Linked DNA regions of Homo sapiens: all the other regions are linked to region 1. Evidence: fine-mapped expression QTL. A gene starts in region 1. Each other region holds a variant in brackets. All regions are shown on one strand. Distances are between the middles of the regions.

Region 1 (8,000 bases):
CACTCCAGCCCGCGGGACAGAATGAGACTCCGTCTCAAAAAAAAAAAAAAAACCAACCTCCCAAAATTATTTTCATTCACGTTCAAGATCACTATCTATTTTTTTTTTTGAGACAGAGTCTCACTCTGTCGCCCAGGCTGGAGTGCAGTGGCAAGATCTCGGCTCACTGCAACCTCCGCCTCCTGGGATCAAGCAATTCTCCTGCCTCAGCCTACTGAGTAGCTGGAACTACAGGTGCGTGCCACCATGCCCAGCTAATTTTTGTGTCTTCAGTAGAGATGGGGTTTCACCATGTTGGCCAGGATGGTCTCTATCTCCTGACCCTGCGATCTGCCTGCCTCAGCCTCCCAAAAGTGCTGGGATTACAGGCGTGAGTGAGCCATGGCACCCAGCTGATCACTATTTTAAAGGTACAAGTAACTACCATTTTTGAAAATTACGCTAAAAATCAAAGCTAGAGAAAAATGTTTAAGACTGTAACCTAGTTTCAGTGGAGAAAACATATCTGACTGGTAACATGAAACCTAGAAGACAAAACTGACTTTTAACAATATCCATCAAAGCAGCTCACATCTAACTTTAATAGTCTTTTAACTTTCACAATATTTTTTCTATTACGGTAAAACTAGGCCAGGTGCAGGGGCTCACACTTGTAATCCCAGCACTTTGGGAGGTTAAGATGGAAGGATCACTAGAGTTCAGGAGTTCAAGACCAGCCTGGTCAACACAGCAAGACCCCATCTCTACTTAAAAAGAAAAAAAGAAAAAAAAAATTAAACATTATGTATCTCTTAAAATTATCTTTGATTCTACAAAGTGTATTTCATGGAATCTTAAAAAAAGATCTGTTTAGTCTGTTTAGATGCTCTGCCAACTTTATTAAGAAGACCAAAGCCCCTAAGTCACCATTATAGTTTTATCAATAATTATGTTTTATCAACAAATATATTTTATCAATAGTTTATAGTTTTTCAACAATGTTATACAGTCTCCAAACATTCTAGTAAGGTGATTTTTATGACCACTTAACGATTAAAATAACTCAAATACTATATCCAAAACAATGAAAGAAAAAGGAGGCTGGCGGACTTAGCTTTTGGCATAATTAGAAAGTATTGTCTCGCTAAAACTACCATATATACATACATCATGTATATGTACATATATGTATATACATATACACATCACTTTACACATTTAGAACTACATTAAATACACACAACTAAGGACTGGACTCTGCAGCAGGCATCTTATTAGAAAAACTACAAAAGCTGGAAAGCTTTCTTGAAGAATTGCAGTCACTCTCAAAAATAACAATTAACACTGGAGAGTATGTTCATTAGAATGTGAAAAGCAATTATCAAAACATACAAATGTAACACGTACATTCCTACATAAATGTTGGTCTTACTAAGTACCAGTTCAAGATACAGACACCTAGAATACATTCTATCCAAAAATAAAATAGATCCTATAGGTCAGAGATACAATAACAAAAACTTCAGAGTACTCAATTTCAAATAAGAACTTAAAAAAAATTATCTAGAAATCCTAAGTTTATCTGTCAAAAATCATTATCAAACTATCTTACTGAAGTCTTTGGAACCTTATAGCATACAACCAATCATTTATATTCCTATTATCTAAGATTCAGTTAATACTGACTTTCACAATTTAAAGCTTCAGTAATTATATGAAAAGCTATAGTTTCTCTTTCTAAAGTAGCATTTGGTCCTAAAAGTCAAGAAAATAAGGAAGTAATCACATTGATTTGCTCACAATAAAATTGTTTGTGTAACCTTTTAGATTATGATCCCATGTCCCATAAAAGCTAAACAAGTTGGCACTTTTCTCTTATTATGTTTGACAGAACAGTATATGAGTCACTTTCCAAAAATAACTAAATTAACATATGCCTTCATAAGTTAATCAAATAGCACAAATGACAATAACAAAATACATGCCTTAAAACACACACACACACACACACACCACACACACACACACACACACACACACGGATAGTTACATTTCCAGTACTTTTAGAATCATCTGCCTATTCAATGCAAAAGACTCAACTTCAGCAGTGGCTGAAGTGACTCAAAAGTTACATCTGGCTTCTAAACTATTACACGACTTTGTTAGGAACTCTGTTTCCTGATTCCATTTTTTTAGATTAATGTAACATGCCTTCTTCGGGCCCTAACTACCTGTGAGAAATTAAGAAGAGAGGTGGTGGAAGGAGAAAGTCATTCACGCCTTAAAAACCCAGCTATAACAACATGGATAATTTAAGTAAAATAAAATAATCATGGTGAAATAAAACAATGAAGCTGAATTTTTATCTGGCCTCCTAAGTCTCCCACAAAAACAAACTTAATTTGTAATACATATGACATTCTGGGAGAAGTATACAATGTTGCTATATCATTAGTTAGAAATGGAAAGTTTCTTTCACCTGATAAGTCATGGTGAATAAGGTCAGCAAAACTGGGGTCTTCACCCCACCAAAATATCCACAATTCTCTTCTTCCAGGTCTTTGATCTCGCCGCCAAACACCAAGTACATCTGCCTTAAGGCAGCGACTAAAACTGCTCAAAATGGGGTCTTCTTCTGTCACAGGAAACAGAATAGGGGCAGAAGTTGGGCCTTGCCATACATATTTTTTCCACTTAATTCCTGTCAAGTCAGCCTGAAGGAAAGAAAGCATTAAGTTTTATTACTGCATATTCACTCAAAGTCAAAAGTACTCAATATGATGTCTCTTATTTCATTAAGACATTACAATTTTTCAATGTATGCTTGAGATATTGACTGCAAATTAGAACAAAAAAAGACTTTATAATTCAACAACCAAGAATTTTAGGGAGAAGAATACAGTTAAAAATTACCACCACCATGTCACTGAATAGCAAGCAAATATGTACTCCAAGTAGAAACAGAAGAAACTGAATGATGTTAAATATAGACACACACTTCAATATGCAAACAGAGTACATTTTTCTCTGTCCTAACTGGTCACATTTGTTCACTGGTGTCAAACTTTTAACTGAAAATCAATTATTAAAGACCCTATCATGGGTTTTTATTCCACATTTACAGAAGTAACGTCTCTAATGAAAAGACATCTGAACAAGTTCTGAAAAAATCTATGTTAATTCTTCACACACACCCCTGTCGGAAAAGTCAAATAGCTACTCACAAAGAACTGTCAGATTTGTGCTAGTCTATCTTCAAAGAACTGATCCTAAAAGTACCAAAAATAGACTGAGTTGGATAAGATAGAAATATAAAACCTGGTGTATGTCTTATTACATGTGAAGAGATGCTGATTAATGGACATTGAAAAGAAAAACATACTGTAGACGAGGATAGAGTATTAAAGATCTCAATTTAGCATGGGCGTTAAGAAATTCGACAAGAGGAATTCAGTAATTTAATCTAACTTAAAGGAGCAAAGCATAAGGTGCCAAAAATGAAACTGCTGATACATGACTGGCAGTTTACACTTGCCAACTAGTTGTGCTCCTCCCACTTAACTCACTTACCTATCATATACTCTTAATATTTCTCATAGCACAAAGGAGAAAATGAAAAAGTAAAGTCACCCAAACTTAAAGTCATTGATGAAGCTCAGCTACTGTCCCATACAGGACAAGTTATTTGCAACAGTTGGTACTTCTGAAAGCCTTAACTGTTGGATGTTACCAGACCTGGGCTAACCTACACAATGATCATCCCTACATCCCGCTTCTCTCGACTTTCCATTTCAATCAAACAAGGGAGCAGCCTGCTCAAAACATTCTGAAAAAGCAACCAAAACACAATAAATATAGAAACAGTGCAAAACCACAGCACCTCGTCCACTAGCCCCCTTCACTCTCACAAAAACATCATGTTCTAATAAAAGCAAGATGGCTAGAAATTGTCAAAAATGGCAAACTGTTTTCAAAGTTTAAAAAGAAAACATATGAAATGGCACCTACTGGCTTTTACAGAGAGATCTTAAGTCACCCAAGAAAGAAACTAACCTGGCGTTAGTTTGACTCATACAAAAAAAATGTAAAACCAAGACAGGTTTCTAGGGCTTAAGTTCTGGGGTCCTGTTTACATGGGGAAACCAAATTAAAAGGGTAAGACATAAAGGCGGTGGGGAGCAGGGGCAATAATGTAAAGTGTGAAGCAGGGATACAGGGCCAATAAGGAGAAAAGCAACAGTTAAGCAAGACAAGAGGGAAAGGTTACTGTCCTGCCAGATAAGGAGCTCAAGTTGAGGACGAGACTACGGTGAGAAGGAGAGTCCGAAACAAGACGAGAAAAAATGCCAACACTCCCCTAAACAGAGCCCGGGACCGTAGGAGAGCGAACGCCGCCTCCCGGGGCTGGCCGCGGAGCTTCGCAGGGCGCCGGCTCCGGCTGGGCCTCGCCCGGGAACTCGGGCATCTGGACCAGACCCGGCCCCCTCCCCCACGGCCCAAGGGCGCACCTCGCGGCCCCCCTCCCTCGGCGCCCGCCGGCCCCGGCACTCACCAGGCAGAAGAGGTTACAGTGACAATCTTCCAGGCTGGCCCCGTTCGGCACGAAGGAGGCACTCATCGTCCCTCACAGCAGCCGCCGCCGGCGCCACAACCCACCATCCGCCATTACCGCCGCCTCCGACCAGAGAGAGAAACACAGACACCGGGGAGGGCCGGGGGGGGGGTAGTGGTTGGGGGGGCGGTGGAAGAGGAGGCCGCCGGGCGCCCGCCCTCCCCACCCACCCCCCCGCCGCCGCCGCCGCCGCCGCCGCCGCGAGCAGCCCCCGCCGCCCGGCCGGCACCCAGCCGCCCGGGGCCGAGGGCCGGAGGCGGGAGGGCCGCGCCGCGCTCGCCTGGCGGGCCGGACTGCGGATCCCGCAGACGCTCGTCCCTCTCTGGGGGACGGAGGGGATGTGTGCCCCTACCACAAGAAAAATAATAAATTACACAATAAATAATCAAAATCAAGTCCGAGACGGCAGAGCCCAAGCCCAGGACGGTTCTCCCGGGCGGAGAGGCGCCCGCACAGGAGCGGGAAGGGCGAGAACCGGGAGAGAAGCCCAGGCCCCCGGCGCGGCAGCGGCGATGTCCTTAAGCCCAGAGTCTCCTCAGCGGCGGAGGTGGTGGCGGCGTCTGCGGGCTCAGACCATTCTCTGGCTCTGTCTTCGTGTCGTTCCTGGGCCAAGCCGGCCTAAAGTTTGCCCTCCTGTGGCCTCACCGGCTGGACGCCGTAGTCTCCCCCATTTTGTGGGCCCAGCGGGCGGTGTTTTTCCCCCTTTAATCCGAATTCACGGGTTTTCCCTTCGCTTTAATGGCGGCCACAGGGACCAGCTCGCCCTCTCTGCTCACCCATTGGCCGCCTTGAGGTCACGTGGGCCCGGGCTCGGTTGGGAGGGGGAGAGAGAAGTGAGCGAGGGAGGGCCGGGAAGCTTTCGGCGGAGGCGGTGAGCTCGGGGGACGGGGCAGCCAGCTGGTGGCCACTAACATAGCGCCATCTGCTGGGTGCCCCGGCCAGTATAAAACGACCCGGGGCCCTGGCCCTCTCTTTGCGGGGAAATTTACAGTCCAGGAAGGTTCATTTCACAAATCAGTGAGAATTACGTGGAAATCAGTTTGAGTTCTTTGGAAGAGAAAGTATTGGCAAAAATTCCAAGACATTCTCATTTATTTCGCGAGGCCGCTGGGGTGCAGGTGCAAACCTCTGGATTTGGGAGTCAGATGATCTGGATGGGGATAAGACTCCTCAACCTAAAAGTTGTGATATGAAGATATAAATTTAAGAAACAAAATATTGCCCTGTAGTTAATAGACTGGGAATTAGAGCCACACTGCCTGGGTTCCAAGCTTGAGCAAATCACTTCCTGCTCTGTGTCTTTACTCATCTGTAAAATGGGGAAAACATATCCCTTACCCCACAAGCTTATTGTAATGAGTTAATACAAATTAAGCAGGTAGCCCAGTGCCCCGCACAGATAAGCACTGTTAAGAGTTAACTATTATTGTTGTCATCATTACCTCATATAGTTATTGTGACGAGCAGGAGAACTAGTGTATGTAAAGGTCTCACTATTTTTTTGTTGTTTACTTCTGTCTCTCTAGTGCCTAAAAAAAGGTTCCTAGCACACAGTAGGTGCTTGATATTTGTATAGTTACAAATGAATGGGTGGTAAGAAGTAAGAACCAAACAAAAGGTTTATTCTCTTTCCCATAAAACACCCAGTGCTTGGATGGGTTACACTTCAATATGAGTTCAAAACAGTTTCTCTGACGGTTTTAGGATTGCAAGAAAGAAAGAAGAAGAAAAAGATGATTCAGAAGTTAGAAACATCAGTGAGTTAGGACTTACTGTAATTTTATGTATTACAGATACATAATTATGTATTATGTATTACAGATACATAATTGTATCTGTAAAATGAATGGTAGACTCTTCCATGTCACTTCTTCAGCCACGGAATGAAAAGAAGTCCTCATTTATCCACTTGTTCATCTGTGGTGGTGAAGAGCCCAGATCTGAAGCCCAAAGCCTGGAGAAAAAGTTCTGCCCCTCACTAGTTAGTCTTAGATCATATTTGACCTTAGATCAAATTAATTTTGCTTTCTCTCGGTTATTGTAAAATGGGGGTAATAAAAGTACTTTTCTTCTAAAATGACTGGTGAATGAAACAATGTAGATACAGTGCTTGCCACAGTGCTTACTTAATGTTAATTATTAATGTAATTTTAAAAATCATTGAGAACCTGCTGGCTCAATTGAGTGTGTTCCTGCTCTGTGCTAGGCCTAGGATACAAATAGGAATAAGATACCTGCCTGTCCCTCAAGATTCCTGAAGAGAGGCACTAAAGGAAACATTTCCTACAGAATAAGGTAAAATACAATGGGGGTAATTGCTTGAATAAAGTATGTACCTACTATGGCATAGTAAGTGCACTAGAAGAAGAGCATCAAACTTAGAGAAGTTGTCATAAAGTAGGTAGCATTTGAAATCAGATTTGAAGGATAAAATGAATTCTTATAAAGCCCTTTGAAGCAGTTAAATCTTATTAAACCTAATTCGAACCCAAAGTCCACATATCAAAGTCAATTATGCAACCAGGACTAATTCAATCCAGGAGCTCAAATCAACTAAGGTTGGCATCCTTTATAACCGAGTGCCAGCACCAGGAGACAGCAATCCCCAGATCCAATGAGGTAAGCGCTCCTCTGCCCATTTCCCGTTCCCTGAAAAACTCCTCAGATCTTTGTTCCGCTGCTTTCCTCAGGCTGAAATGCCCTCCTCACATCTAAAGGGGTCTCCATTCTCCTTAGAAGTCTTGCCCTCCCATTGCCCCCACCCCCTGACTTGAGCACCATCCTCAGGATTCCAATGGCAGGTAGAATATACCTGAAACCTACCAGTAGGAGGTAACATTTGATTGACCTTTCTGTTTGAATGTCAATCTTTTCAAAAAGAAGAGGGAGACAAGGAGACAGAAGCGAAGAAGGGAGGAAGACCCAGAAGAAAAAGTCTGATGGAGGATCGCAGAAGGGAGCAGGAGAGAGAGAGAAAGACAGGACTGAGAGAATGGAGAAGCAGATTAGAATGGGGGGGATCCCAGTTGTGAGGGGAATGGAATCATTGGGAGAAGGGAAAGAGAAGAAATAAATATTTTCAGCCCACAAAGAACGTATCAGTAACCACTTACATTCGGTAAAAATGACATTTTGTGTGATTTAAAGAGTAATGGAGGCCGGGTGCAGTGGCTCACGCCTGTAATCCCAGCACTTTGGGAGGCCGAGGCGGGCAGATCATGAGGCCAGGAGATCAAGACCATCCTGGCTAACACGGTGAAACCCTGTCTCTACTAAAAACACAAAAAGGCGGGCGCCTGTAGTCTCAGCTACTCGGGAGGCTGAGGCAGGAGAATGGCGTGAACCCGGGAGGCGGAGCTTGCAGTGAGCTGAGATCGCGCCACTGCACACCAGCCTGGGCGACAGAGTG
Region 2 (8,000 bases), 48 kb before region 1:
ATTTTTGTATTTTTAGTAGAGACGGGGTTTCACCATGTTGGCCAGGATAGTCTCGATCTCTTGACCTCGTGATCCGCCCACCTTGGCCTCCCAAAGTGCTGGGATTACAGGCGTGAGCCACTGCGCCCGGCCGAGACACCTTTTTGTACAGAGCCTGAGATATCTTATTGTGCATAGAGAAAAAAAAGAACCAAAGTTATCAAAAAAAACCAAACTCGTTTCAAAAGGACATAGGAGAAATCCACCATTATCCTAATATTAAAATCAAAGATATTACACAAAAAGAAAACCATAGACCATTATCTCTTAAGAACACAGATGTAAATAATTAACAAAATATCAGCAACTCAAACCAGCAAAATATAAAAGAATAACACATCATGACCAAATGAAGTTAATTCTGGGAATGTATGGTGTAGCATTCAAAAGAAAAAAATATCATGCATCACATTAACAGAATAAAAGAAAACCATATTATCTCAATAACTATAGAAAAAACCCTATTAATACTATTAATATATTCAACCCCTATTTATATACACTCGGCAAGCAAGGAATAAAAGAAAATTTGCTTGATCTGATGGATATCTATGAAAAACTACAACTAATATCTTACTTGATGTTTAAGCATGAATAATTTCTCAAGATTAAGAACAAAGCAAGAATATTAGCTCTCAACATTTAACATTTTACTGAACGTTTTACCCAATGCAATAAGGCAAGAAAGAGGTCAGAGATTTCGGAGGAAGAAGATAAATTGTCTTTATTCATTGTCAACATTATTACAAACTATACAATAAGGCCAGATGCAGTGGCTCACACCTGTAATCCCAGCACTTTGGGAGGCCGAGGTAGGTGGATCATGAAGTCAGGAGTTCAAGACCAGCCTGGCCAACATGGTGAAACCCCGTCTCCACTAAAAACACAAAAATTAGCTGGGCGTGGTGGTGGGCACCTGTAATCCCAGCTACTCAGGAGGCTGAGGCAGAAGAATCGCTTCAACCCAGGAGGTGGAGGTTGCAGCAAGCTGAGATCACACCACTGCACTCCAGCCTGGGCGACATAGCGAGACTCTGTCCCACCCCCCACCAAAAACACAAACAAACAAAAAAAGTATACAATGAAAGGGTCAGGCTGATCCCCACCTAATCAATCTTAACATTACTAGATATGGGACAACCAGATACTGTCTCTCTCTGACGTAACATAATACAAAGCAACACAGCCACCATCTATGAAGTACTCTTGCCAAAAATATTGAAGTTGAGTCTAATCAAGTAATCAAGCCCCCAGATCAGCACTGAGCACTGTCTAGAACTTTCTATGATGATGGGAAGTTCTGTATATGTTTTTATATATATATATATATATATTTTGAGACACAGTTTCACTCTGTCACCCAGGCTGGAGTGCAGTGGCACGATCTCAGCTCACCACAACCTCTGGCTCCTGCGTTCAAGCGATTCTCCCACCTCAGCCTCCCAAGTAGCTGGGATTACAGGTGCCCGCCACCACACTGGGCTGATTTTTGTATTTTCAGTAGAGGTGGGGTTTCACCATGTTGGTCAGGCTGGTCTTGAACTCTTGACCTCAAAAGATCTACCCACCTCGGCCTCCCAAAATGCTGGGATTACAGGCATTAGCCACTGCACCCAGCCTGTATATGGCTCTTGAGTACTTGAATTGTGGCTAGTCCAATTGAGGAACTAATTTTTTAAGAGACAAGTCTTGCTCTGTCTCTTAAAAGGCTGGAATGCAGTACAATCATAGCACACTGTAACCTCAAATTCCTGGACTCAAGAGAGCCTCCCAAAGTGCTGAGATTACAGGCATGAACCACTGTACCCAGCTGAGGAACTGAATTTTTAATTGTATTTAAATCCAATTACTGTAAATTTAAATAGCCAATAGTAGTTACTAACACAGCTAGTATTGGATAGCTCAGCTCTACAGCTACCTTCCATTTATAGAAATGCAAAGGAAAAAGGAAGAAATTAAATTACACTGAAAGAAGTAAAATTACATGACAAGTAAAACGAAAAATCCAGAATGTGGGGCACTCTATAGGAGGAACTGACCTAGTTTTACCAACCGAGTCAATGTCATGAAAAGGGAGCAGGAGACAACTAAAAGGAGAGATTTAGAAAACATAACAACCAAATGTTTACTCCTTGTTTGAATCCTAGTCAAATAAACTATCTACAAAAAGACATTTCTGAGAAAATCTGGACAAGGTATCATAATATTAGGTATGACGGTAGAATTATATTCATGTAAGAAGATATTCGTATTTTTTAGAGCCGCATACTGAAGTACTGCAGAAGTGTAATATTTAAGATTTGCTTTAAAAACCTTTATCAAGAGCATAGCATAAGGATTTGCCAAATAAAGTATTACATATCTATAAAATGCAGTATTATGAACTTTTTAAAAAGAATGAATCTGTAAGTGCTAACATGGATAAACACCCAGGCTGTTTATCAAAAAAACAATAAGTTGCAGAAATACAGCATGATTCCATTTGTGTGAAAGAAAGCAACAGGCAGACCTACATACATAAGAGGGGAACCTGTTAATTTTTAATTTTATATTCTTGTGTACTGTTTGAACTTTTAATTTTATTTATTTAACTTTTGAGACAGTCTCGCTCTGTTGCCCAGGCTGGAGTGCAGTGGCGTGATCTCCGCTCACTGTAACCTCTGCCTCTCAGGTTCAAATGATTCTCCCACCTCAGCCTCCCGAGTAGCTGGGATTACAGGCACCTGCCACCACATCAGTCTAATTTTATATATATATATAATATAGATATACACACACTATATATATATACACACACACTATATATATCTATATATATACATACACACTATATATATACACACACACTATATATATGTGTATAGTGTGTATGTGTGTGTGTATATATATACACACACACACACATACACACTATACACATATATATATATATATATATATATATATATATATATATATTTTTTTTTTTTTTTTTTTTTTTTTTTTTAGTAGAGACCGGTTTTTGCCATGTTGCCCAGGCTGGTCTCAAACTCCTGATCTCAAGTGATCTACCCACTTCAGCCTCCCAAAGTGCTGGGATTACAGGCATGAGCCACTCACCCAGCCTGAACTTTGTAAAAGAGCATTTTTTTTTTTAAACACAGAAATTTGTTCAAAAACACAAAAAACCAAGAACAACAACAA[A/C]AAAAAAAACCCAGCAGGTCCTACCCAACGTATGAATAATCCCTTCTCTTTTTTTTTCCTCATGCTGTTGCCCAGGCTGGAACACAGTGCCGCGATTAGCGCTCACTACAGCCTCCCAGGTAGCTGGGATTACAGGCAAGAGCCACCTCATTGGCTTGAATGGGTTCTTTTTGAATACTTTCAATGACAAGGACCATACTACTGTATAAGGAGATGCATCCCCCTCATCAAATAGCTCCAACTGCTAGAAGGTAAATTCTTAATATTGAATAGAAATTCATCTTTTCTGTATCTTCCAGCCCTTCAGTCCTATTTCTACCTAATTTATAAAGCTGCACTATCCAATAATGGTAGCCACAAGTTACATGTAGCTATTAGACACTTGACAAGTGGCTAGTCCAAATTGAGATGTGCTATAGATGTAAAATACCAATTTTCCAAGACATGTTATAAAATAAAGAAATGCCAAATATCACTAATGTTTCATCACAATTACTGTATGTCAAAATAATATTTTAGATAAATCAAGTTCAATAAAATATATTGGGCTGGGCATGGTGGCTCATGCCTGTAATCCCAGCACTTTGGGAGGCCAAGGCGGACGGAACACCTGAGGTCGGGGGTTCTAGACCAGCCTAGCCAACACAGTGAAACCCCGTCTCTACTAAAACTACAAAAAATTAGCCGGGTGTGGTGGCAGGCGCCTGTAATCCCAACTACTCAGGAGGCTGAGGCAGGAGAATCACTTGAACCCAGGAGGTGGAGGTTGCAAGTGAGCCAAGATCACGTCACTGCACTCCAGCCTGGGTGACAGAATGAGACTCCACCTCAAAAAATATATAATAATAATAATAAATAAATAAATAAATAAAGTAAATTAAACAAATTTTAAAGATCTTCAGCAAGAGAAAAGGTCTAGTTGAAGCAAACACAGTAAGTGAATACGAATGGTTGATAAACAGGAATTCATTGCCCAATTCGCTTACTTTTGTCCATGTTTGAAGTTTCTAATAACAAAACAGAGTAGAACTAAAATGCTAAAAAAAAAAAAAAAAAAGCATGAAAGATTTGAGGAGCAAGATTAAAGTATTCCAAGGTCTTTGTTCATTCCATAAAAAGAGCGTAGACTCTAACTTTAGACTTTAAGGAAAGCAGGCATAATAAATGATTAATTCAATTAACAAAAGAACAAAAATAGAACACCAAACTTCTAAATCAAGAGAAGAAACTGAAAAAAAGAATATAAAAAGGAAAAAATAACAGTATCATTAACTCATCAATTATTCAAATATTTGTCTACTAAATTCAAAGTATGGTCTATGAACCCTCCTTTTCAGGGGCTACAGGGGTTCAAAACTATTTTCATAATAGCATCAAAACAGTATCTGACTTTTTTATTATGTTGAAATTTACAAAGATGGTGCAAAAACAATAGGCAGCAAAACTTCTAGCAACTGAACATGAATCAAAGGGAGTGGTACCAACTGTACTAGCAGTAGTAGTCACTGCTTTCTCCACCACCACACATTCAGTTTGTTGTTTTTTATGATAGTATCACTTAAGAATGTCCTTCATGAAGACAGCAAAAATAATTTTTATTAATCTCAATCCTTATACAATCTTTTTACACTCTGTATAAAGAAATAGGTAGTGCATATAAAGCATTTCTGCTATAGATTTGAAGTACAATGGCTATTTTGAGGAAAAGCGCTTGTACGACTGAGTTACAAGCTGAAACTAGCTTTTTTCATGAAACACCATTTGAAGAACAAAGGACTGGTAGATAAACTAAGATTATCCATATTTGGTCATTTGGCAGATTTGTTTATTAGGTTATCAAACATGAACAAAATGAGTTTGTCATTTAAGGAAGAACTAATCATTTTGAGCTTGACTGCTAAACAATGACTACTACTGCTAATACAGTTGGTACCACTGCAATATTTAGAATTTTGGAAAACTATCTGACACAGTGCTTGAGCTTTCTAATACTTAAATACTTTTCAGGTGAGATCACTGGCAATATTAATGAATGAAATATTTTGATACTCTGCATTGGCTGAATTCCACATCCTCAAATTCAACCAACCAGAGATGAAAAATATTATTTTTCAAAAATGAAAAGTTAACAGTACAAGAATAAAAAATAATATAAATTGTAAAAACAATACGGTATAACAACTATTTACGTAACACATTGTATTAGGTATTATAAACAAACTACAGATTGTTTACACTGAAGGGCCAGGTACAGTGGCTCATGCCTGTAACCCCAACACTTTGGGAGGCTGAGGTGGGTGGATTACTTGAGGCCAGGAGTTCAAGACCAGGCTGGCCAACATGGTGAAACCCAATCTCTATTACAAATACACACACACAAAAAGTTAGCTGGGCGTGGTGGCGCATGCCTGTAGTCCCAGCTACTTGGGAGGCTGAGGCACGAAAATCGCTCGAGCCAGGGAGGGGCAGGTTGCAGTAAGCCAAGATGACACCACTGCACTCCTGCCTGGGCAACAGAGGCAAAGACCCTATCTCAAAAAAAAAAAAAAAAGTATACTGAAGGATGCATACGGGTTATATGAATACTAACTCATTTTATATGAAGGACTTGAGCATCCGTAGATTTTGTTATCTGTGAGGGTTCTAGAATATCGATCCTACACGGATATTTAGAGATGAGTATATATAACAAAATGTGCCAACATTCAGATCTATATAACCCAGTGAACTGATATTTTTCAAATGACCAATGCATGATGTTACAAAATCGAAAGATCCATTCAGTTATTAGTGAAGTACAACCACTGACAGGGCTTTAGATTCCACATTCCAACCAACCCTTAAGAAACTACCACTTGTCAATTTTTGGTGTAGTATCAAAGAAGAATATCCACAATTATCTGAAAAAGTTATTAAAATACTCTCTTCCCTTCTCCAATTGCATAGCTACATGAGGCTGGATTTTCTTCATATACTTCAACCAAGACAATATCCAGCAATAGGCCGAATGCAGAAGCAGATATAAGAATTCAACTATCTTACTACACTCAATATTAAAGAGACTTGCACAACTGTAAAACAATGCCACTCAATTAGCTTTTTGGCTACTGTTTTGGAAAATATAGTGGATGTCTATTTTATTCATGTTAATATGCACTGAAATTATTGTTTTTAATAAGTGGTGCTTTAAAATTTCTCTAAAATATAAATAGATGTAATAAACGTACTTTGCAGTCTTCGGTAATTTTTTAAGACTGTAAATAAGTTCTGAGACAAAAAAGTTTGAGAATTAGTCTATTTTATGCAAGGCAGTAGGAGAAATAGGATCTCCATTCATCTGAGGTGAACTATTTAGTTATGTCCCAAGTGTACAAGGGATGTGAAAAGTAAATGGCCATACATTCACTTACCCAGCTATTAAGAGTAAGAAACTATTAACTGGGGCTACATACTAATAGCAGCAGTTCTCTAAATTTTTGACAACATTAAATCAGCCCTTTTCTTCTATACAGACCTCTTTCTAAAAGCTAGTTTCTTTAGAGAGTACAATTGAATTTCTTTTTTTCTTTTTTTTTTTTTTGAGACGGAGCCTCGCTCTTGTCACCCAGGCTGGAGTGCAGTGGCACAATCTCGGCTTACTGCAAGCTCTGCCTGCCAGGTTCACGCCATTCTCCTGCCTTAGCCTCCCGAGTAGCTGGGACTATAGGCGCCCACCACCAAGCCTGGCTAATTTTTTTGTATTTTTAGTAGAAACACGGTTTCACTGCGTTAGCCAGGATGGTCTCGATCTCCTGACCCTGTGATCCGCCCGCCTCGGCCTCCCAAAGTGCTGGGATTACAGGTGTGAACCACTGCGCAAGGCCAAACAACTGAACTTCATGCTAGAACACAACCACATTGAGCAATCTTTGTAAAAAAAAGAAATTGTCCTCAAAGCACAAACCAACAGAGTAATCCTTTTAGATTATTTTTTCCTATTGATGTTAGGTATGCAGTACTTTAATGTTAACATGAGAAATTTAATGTATTGCTTTTTACTTAGCAGCCTTTCTTTTTTTTTTTATGAAGATTAAAGAAAACCTTTTATTGAGGTATAACTTACAATAAATAGTGCACATTTAAGTGTGCAGCTCCTTTAATTTTTTACATATGAATACATCATTGAGACTTTCTGTAACCCACTTTATACTGTAGTTTGCTTTTTATTTTTCTTTTTTTAGACAGTCTCGCTCTTTTGCCAGGCTGGAGTGCAGTGGCACGATCTCGGCTCACTGCAACCTCTGCCTCCCAGGTTCAAGCGAGTCTCCTGCCTCAGCCTCCCAAGTAGCTGGGACTACAGGTGTGCATCACCACGCCCGGCTAATTTTTTTTTGTACTTTTAGTAGAGATGGGGTTTCACCATGGTGGCCAGGATGGTCTCGATCTTTTGACCTCGTGATCCTCCCGCCTTGGCCTTCCAAAGTGCTGGGATTTCAGGCGTGAGTCACTGCACCTGGCCTGCTTTCTTTTTTTTTTTTTTTTTTTTTAATTGATCATTCTTGGGTGTTTCTCGCAGAGGGGTATTTGGCAGGGTCATAGGACAATAGTGGAGGGAAGGTCAGCAGATAAACAAGTGAACAAAGGTCTCTGGTTTTCCTAGGCAGAGGACCCTGCGGCCTTCCTCAGTGTTTGTGTCCCTGGGTACTTGAGATTAGGGAGTGGTGATGACTCTTAATGAGCATGCTGCCTTCAAGCATCTGTTTAACAAAGCACATCTTGCACTGCCCTTAATCCATTTA
Region 3 (8,000 bases), 230 kb before region 1:
AAACTCATATGGAACCAAAAAAGAGCCCAAAAAGCCAAGGCAACCCTAAGCAAAAAGAACAAAGCTGGAGGCATCGCACTACCCAACTTCAAACTATACTACGTGGCTACAGTAATCAAAACATCATGGTACTGGTACAAAAACAGATACATAGACCAATGAAACAGAATAGAGAGCCCAGAAATAAGGTCACACCTACAACTATCTGATCTTGAACAAACCTACCAAAAACAAGCAATGGGGAAAGGATTCCCTATTCAGTAAATGGTGCTGGGATAACTCGCTAGGCATATGTAGAAGATTGAAACTGGACCCCTTCCTTACACCGTATTCAAAAATTAAGATAGATTAAAGACTTAAATGTAAAACAAAAACTATAAAAACCCTGGAAGACAACCTAGGCAATACCATTCTGGACATAGGAACAGGCAAAGATTTCATGATGAAGACAACAGAAGCAATTGCAACAAAAGCAAAAATTGACAAATGACACCCAATAAAATTAAAGAGTTAATGCACAGCAAACGAAACTATCAACAAAGTAAACAGACAACCTACAGAATGGGAGAAAATTTTTTGCAAACTATGCATCTGACAAAGGTCTAATATCCAGCTTCCATAAGGAACTTAAATTTACAAAGGAAAAACAACCTCATTAAAAAGTGGGCAAAGGACATGAATGGACACTTTTCAAAAGAAGATATATATGCAGCCAACAATCCTATGGAAAAAAGCTAACATTACTGATCATTAGAGAAATGCAAATCAAAACCACCACAATGAGATACCATCTCACACCAGTCAGAATGGCTATTATTAAAAAGTAAAAAAAAAAAAAAAAAAAAAAAAAACAGATGCCGGTGAGGTTGCAGAGAAAAAGGAAAAAGGAACACTTGCACACTACTGGTAAGAATGTAAATTAGTTCAACCATTGTGGAAGACAGTAGACAGTGTGGCAATTCCTCAAAGACCTAAAAACAGAAACACCATTTGACCCAGCAATCCCATTACTGGGTATATACCCAAAGAAATATAAATTGTTCTATTATAAAGACACATGCACACGTATGTTCATTGAAGCACTATGCACAATAGCAAAGACATGGAATCAACCTAAATGCTAATCAATGGTAGACTAGATTTTAAAAATGTGGTACATATACACTGTGGAATACTATGTAGCCATAAAAAAAATGAGACTGTGTCCTTTACAGAAACTTAGATAGAGCTGGAGACCATTATCCTTAGCAAACTAATGCAGGAACAGAAAACCAAATACTGCATGTTCTCACTTATAAGTAGGAGCTAAATCATGAGAACATATGGAAACATAAAGGGGAAAAACACACAATGGGGCCTATCAGAGGGTAGAGGGTGGGAGCAGGGAGAGGATCAGAAAAATAACTAATGGGTACTAGGCTTAATACCTGGGTGACAAAATAATCTGTACAACAAACCACTACCACACAAGTTTACCTATATAACAAACCTGAGCATGTACCCCTGAACTTAAAATAAAAATTAAATTTAAAAAAAATGGGGCTGGGAGTGGTGGCTTACACCTGTAATCTCAGTACTTTGAGAGGTAAGGCAGGAGGATCACTTGAGACCAGAAGTTCAAGGCTAGCCTGGCCAACATGGTGAAACCCCATCTCTATTAAAAATACAAAAAATTAGCCAGGCGTGGGGGCACACACCTGTAATCCCAGCTATTCGGGAGGCTGAGGTGGGAGGACTGCTTGATCCTGGGAGGCGGACACTGCAGTCAGCTGAGATAGTGCCACTGCACTCCGGCCTGGGCGACAGAGTGAAGCCCTGTCTCAAAAAAGGGCAAAGGACTTGAATAGACATTTCTCCAAAGAAAATACACAAATGGCTAATAAGCAGAAGAAAAGATGCTCAACATCACTAATCATTAGGGAAATGCAAATCAAAAACACAAGATACCACTTCACACCCTTAAAAATGGCTATTCTTTAAAAAGGACAACAAAACAGATAATGAGGTTGGCAAAGATGTGGAGAAACTGGAACCCCTGTGCATTGCTGATGGAACTGTAAAATGGTACAGCCACTGTGAAAAACAGCTTGGCAGTTCCTCAAAAACTTAAATATAGAATTACCATATGGTCCAGAAATTCCACTCTTAGGTGTATACCCAAACGAATGAAAACAGAGACTCAAACAGATACGTACACCAATGTTCACAGCAGCATTATTCAAAATAGCAAAAAGATGGAAACAACCCAGATGTCCACTGGCAGATGAACGGACAAACAAAATGTGGTATATCCATACAATGGAATATTATTCAGCCATAAAAAGAAATAAAATTCTGACACATACTACATGGTGGATGACCTTGAAAACATTATGCTGAGTAAAATAAGCCAGACACAAAAGGACAAATATTGCATGATTCCACTTACATGAGGTATCTAGAGTAGTCAAATTCATAGAGACGGAAAGGAGAACGGCATTTTTCCTGGGGCTGGACAATAGGGAAATACAGAGATATTGTTTCATGGGTATGGTGTTTCAGTTTGGAAAGATGAAAAGGTTCTGGCACTAGATAATAGTATATAAATATGCATAATACCACTGAATTTACACTTAAAAACAGATAAATGGTAAATTTTATGTTATATATATTTTACCATTAAAAACATGAAGGTAAGAAAAAAAGCTGAAAAAATATTTGCAATGCAAATGTTAAATAAAGCTCTTTAAGCTAATAGAAAAGTTACACAATACAGAAACTTGGACCTACAAAATGAAGGGCACCAGAAGTGAAAAACTGGAGGGTTAAGAAAGAAATTATTTTCCTCATTTGTAAATTTGTACATAGCTGATGATTTAAACTAAAAATAACAAAACACTGTGAGGGCTATGACAAATGTAGAAGTAAAATATTTGACAAAAATGGCACAAAACATGGGAGAGTAGACACGGAAGTATATTGGCAGAAGGTTCTTACACATTATTTGTGAGTTGAAATATTATTTGAAGGTACACTGTGATAAGTTTAAGATGCAAAGTATGAAGCAACTCACAAAAATAAAACTAAGAGGTATACTTAAGAAGACAGTGGTGAAGGTAAAGTAGAATCCTAAAACATGTTTAATTAATTCAAAGAAGACAGAAAAGGGGAATAAAGAAAAGTTGGAACAAACAGAAAACAAATAGTAACCACAGTGATAATTACACTGAATGTAAATAGTATAAGTGTTCCAATTAAAAAGAAGAGGTTGTCAGATTGGATAAATAAAGAAGACAATTATTTATAAGAAACTTATCTTAAATCTAAAGACACAAATAGGTTAAAAATAAAAGGATGAAAAATATATACTATGGAAACATTAATCCTAAGAAAGCTGGAGTGGCTATATCAATGTTAGCCAAAATAGATCTCAGAACAAAGACATTTCATAATGACAGATGGGTTAATACATCAAGAAGACATAATAATCTTAAATGTGTATACAGCTAATAACAGACCATGAAAACCCATGAAGCAAAAACTGGTAGAATTGAAAGAAAAGGCAAATCCACAATTATAGGACCCTTACAGTATTCTCTAATTAATTTATAAGTAGACCAAAAAAAACCAGCAAGGATACAGAAGATCTTAGCAAGATAATCAACAAACTTGACCTAACTGATTTTTATAAATGAATACCCATACTTTCCAAAAACTCACAGAGCATTTGCCAAGACAGATCGTCAAATTTAAAAGAACTGAAATCATATAGAATCTATTCTCTAACCACACAAAAATAAATTAGAACTCAGTAAGAGAAAAATATCTAGGAAAAAACACCTAGTTAGTGTTTATTTAGACTTCTAAATAAATCTTGGGTCAGAGAAGAAATCACAAGGGAAATCAGAAAAAAATGTAACAACATCAAAATTTGTGGGACACAGATAAAGAAGTGCTTAGAGGGAAATGTATAGCTTTCATTGGTGTTTTATTTAGGAAAAAAAAAGGTCCAAAATCAGTTATCAACTATTTAAGTTTCAATCTTTTTTTTTTTCTTTTTTTTTGAGACGGAGTTTCGCTCTTGTTGCCCAGGCTTGAGTGCAATGGCACGATCTCAGCTCACTGCAGGCTCCGCCTCCTGGGTTCAAGCAATTCTCCTGCCTCAGCCTCCCGAGTAGCTGGGATTACAGGCGCCCACCACCATGCCTGGCTAATTGTTTGTATTTATAATAGAGACAGGGTTTTGCCACGTTGGCCAGCCTGGTCTCAAACTCCTGGCCTCAGGTGATACGCTCGCCTCAGCCTCCCAAAGTGCTGGGATTACAGGGGTAAGCCACCATGCCTGGCCAAGTTTCAATCTTATGAAGCTAGCAGAAGAGAAAATTACATCCAAAGAAAGTAAAACAATGGTAATTAAAAAAAAAAAAAGCAGAAACCAACAAAATAGAAAATGGAAAAACAGAAAGTCAACAAAAACTTTTTAAAAGATCAATAAAATGGATAAACCTCTACTACCTATTACAGATTGAGCAAAATGAATTCTAGATTAAGCAAAAAAAAGGAGATAGACACAAATTCACAAATTATGAATATCAGAAATGAAAGAGGGCATATCACTACAAATCCTACAGACACTTAAAGAAATAAGAGAATATTTTGAACATTATGCCAATAAATTCAAAAACTTGAATGGACAAATTTATTGAAAGATACTAATTACTAAAACTGACTCAGAAACAGAAAATGTGAATACTCCTATACTCATTTTTAAAATTAAATTTAAAAGTAAAAGTCTTCCCAAAAATAACACATAAGGGCAAGATGGCTTCCCTGGTGAATTCTATCAAAAATTTAAGGAAGAAGTAATATCAATACTTCCCAACTCATTTTATAAAGCCAACATTACCTTGATATCAAAGCCAGATAAAGA[C/A]ATTACAGAAAACTATAGACCAATATTCTTATGAACATAGATGGAAAGAATCCTTAACAAAATTTAGCAAGTCAAATCTAACAATTATATAAAATGGGTCCTATACCATGATCAAGTGGGTTTTATTCCACTAATTTACAGTCAGGCCAACATTCAAAAACTAATCAATGTAATTTACCATATCAACAGGATATAGGAGAAAAAACATATAATCCTACCAAGGAATGCAGTAAAACTTTAAATATAAAATCCAACATCCACTCATTATAAAAATGTTCAGCCAACTAGCGATAGAAGGAAACTTCTTTAGCCTGACAAAGGGCATAGACAGAACACCTAGCACAAATGTCATACAGAACAGTGAGGGACCAGAATGTTTTCCACCACAAGGTTGTGAACAAGGCAAGGGTATCCACTCTCATCACTCTAATTCAGCCTTGTACTGCATGAAAGGTAAACACTGTAAAGGAAGAAGTAAAACAGTATTTACTAGAGAATGAAACATGCAACTTTGGGTACTTAGAAAGTCCTAAAGAAACTCCAAAAATATCAACTAGAACCAATAAGTGATATAACAAGTTGCAGGTTACAGGGTAAATATACAAAAATGAATTCTACTTCTATAATAGTAATGAATAACTGGAAGGAAATTATAAGTGGAATCATACAATATCTGTCCTTTTATGACTGGCTTATTTTACTTCACATAATGTCTTCAAGTTTCATCTATGTTGTAGTACATGTCAGAATTTCCTTCCTTTTAAAGGCTCAATAATATTCCATTGTATGTATACACCACATTTTGTTTATTCGTTTATTTATCAATGGACATTTTGGTTGTTTCCACCTTTTGGCTATTGTGAATAACACTCCTATGAACACTGGTGTACAAGTATCTGAGTACCTGCTTTCAATTCTTTTGGATATTTGCCTAGAAATGTTATTTCTGGACCATATGGTAATTCTGTTTTTAACTTTCAGAGGAATCAGGAACAAGGTTTTTCAGTTAAACATACAGAAAGGAAGAAAATTAGAATGGGCCCTCTGGTACTGGAATGGAACTGGATGTATTGGTATAAACACTCATAATTTTCAGTGTACAGACAGACAGATACAGAAAAAATATAGACATAAATGTATATGTCTATGAGTCTGGGTTTGTGTACACAATACATTGTGTATATTCTCTAGCTGTCTGCTGAAAGGGCCTGGAGCAGCAACTCCAACAGCAATGAGCAAAACTAACTCCCAGAACACAGCGTTCAAATGTTATTTTTCACTAAATGGAACCAGGGTTCCTTGGAGAAATGTCTGAATCCGAGACTAGGGCAGGGAAAATATAAGGTGAGCCTGGAACACTATCTTTTGCCAAAAAATAAGGAAGCGTTCCAAGAATGATTGATATATGTCAGAAAGACACAAGCAACTTAACTGGTTTCCCACTTGAGTACCAAAACAAATCATATAATAATTATAACTCACCGAATAAAATGGAAAATCACAAGTCCATAAAGATATAAATAAAATGAGTAAACTGAATTTTTGTAAGGACATGTTATTTATATAATTTCAGAGTTCTTCCCCATAAAGTCCTCTTTTATAAAGGCAAAAAGATAACTGTAAAGTTATATTTTTTACCTAGCAGATATCATATTAATCAAGTTATCAATCATTAATGAGAAAAAATGAAACTGCGTGCCACCTTATAAGATGCAATGAGCAGAAGGCATCACTTCTGTGACATTCCTGCCAAAGATAAATAACCTCAGTCTAATGAGAAAACCCAAATTAAGAGACATTCTAGATAAGCTGTAATATTCTGAAGTGTCAAAATCATGACAGTCAAGGAAAGACTGAAGAAGTGTTCCAGACTGAAGAAGTTACTAAAGTGATAACTAAATGCAATGCATGGTTCTGACTGGATTCTTTTGCTTTTATAAAAGCGTTATTAAGACAACTGCTAAAATTTAAACCGGTTCTGAGTATTAGATGGCAACAATGAATCAATTTTAACTTCCTGATTCTTATGGTTATATTGTGATTATGTATAAGAATGTCTTTGCTTATAAGACATAGACACTAAAGTATTTCAGGGTGAGGGAACATCAGGGCAACAACATACTCTTAAATGGCTCAATAAAAAAAGATATTTGGATTGTACTTCCAATTTCTCTATAATTTTGTGACAGCCAAACTTTTAAAAAGCTAAAATAACCGAAAGATAAATTTACTGGGCAGACAGTTGGTCAATTAACGAAGTAGTTTTCAAAGGTAAAGTTATCTTTCCACACCCAGTATCCATGAATGAAAACGTTCTACATGACAATTGCAGATACTATCACCACTGAATAGCTACACTCATGTCGGATGGGTTGCTATACATATTTATTTCATTAATGTATCTACACATCAAGAAAACTTAGAGGAGTGGCTGAATTTTGTCAACTTTCTCTGAAATATTCACCAAGTTCACTCAATATGATAAAGAAGATTTGAAACTTTTGAGAATTAAACATTTCCACCATAGAGAATACTATGTTTTCTCCAAGCTCTCAAAAAATTATAATTACTGGGCCAGGCACAGTGGTTCACTCCTGTAATCCCAGCACTTTGGGAGGCCAAGGCAAGCGGATCATTTGAGGTTGGGAGTTCGAAACATGCCTGGCCAACAAGGCGAAACCCTGTCTCTACTAAAAATAAAAGAAATTAGCCAGGCATGGTGGCAGGCACCTGTAATCCCAGCTACTCGAGCGGCTGAGGCAGGAGAATTGCTTGAACCCAGGAGGTGGAGGTTGCAGTGAGCCAAAACTGCACCACTGCACTCCAGCCTGGGTGACAAAGCAAGACTCCACCTCAAAAAAAAAAAAAAAAGCCATAATTATTGGAGCTGAAGGACATACTCAAGCAATTAGTCATCCATTCTATCATCCTACCCCTAGGCAAATTTGCAGACAAGGCAAGAGATTCACACTAACTCCACTAACCTCTGGCCTAACTTAACCAAGATTACAATAGTATAGAACGGGCTGGCAAACTTTTTCTCTAAAAGGCCAGAGATTTTCCTGCTGGCTGAACATGAAAAGAAAGAAAA

What was found. PIP is the estimated chance that this variant, and not a neighbour inherited with it, causes the effect.
Region 2: its variant is fine-mapped to the expression of MED13 in whole blood (INTERVAL, PIP 0.96).
Region 3: its variant is fine-mapped to the expression of MED13 in whole blood (INTERVAL, PIP above 0.99).

What each region holds. Positions count from the first base shown.
Region 1 is chr17:62,060,609-62,068,608 of GRCh38, forward strand. MED13 (mediator complex subunit 13) reads right to left here and starts at 4,670. Exons shown (of 30, transcript NM_005121.3): 1 at 4,532-4,670; 2 at 2,459-2,693. The coding sequence starts at 4,597. RefSeq lists enhancers at 4,061-4,160, 5,071-5,330 and silencers at 4,311-4,590, 5,381-5,460.
Region 2 is chr17:62,012,959-62,020,958 of GRCh38, forward strand. All of the region lies in intron 8 of MED13 (mediator complex subunit 13), which reads right to left. Among named protein-coding and RNA genes, the nearest start is that of MED13, 48 kb to the right of the region's middle. The variant A/C (reference allele first, on the strand shown) is at 3,223.
Region 3 is chr17:61,825,907-61,833,906 of GRCh38, forward strand. All of the region lies in intron 6 of BRIP1 (BRCA1 interacting DNA helicase 1), which reads right to left. Among named protein-coding and RNA genes, the nearest start is that of BRIP1, 34 kb to the right of the region's middle. The variant C/A (reference allele first, on the strand shown) is at 4,910.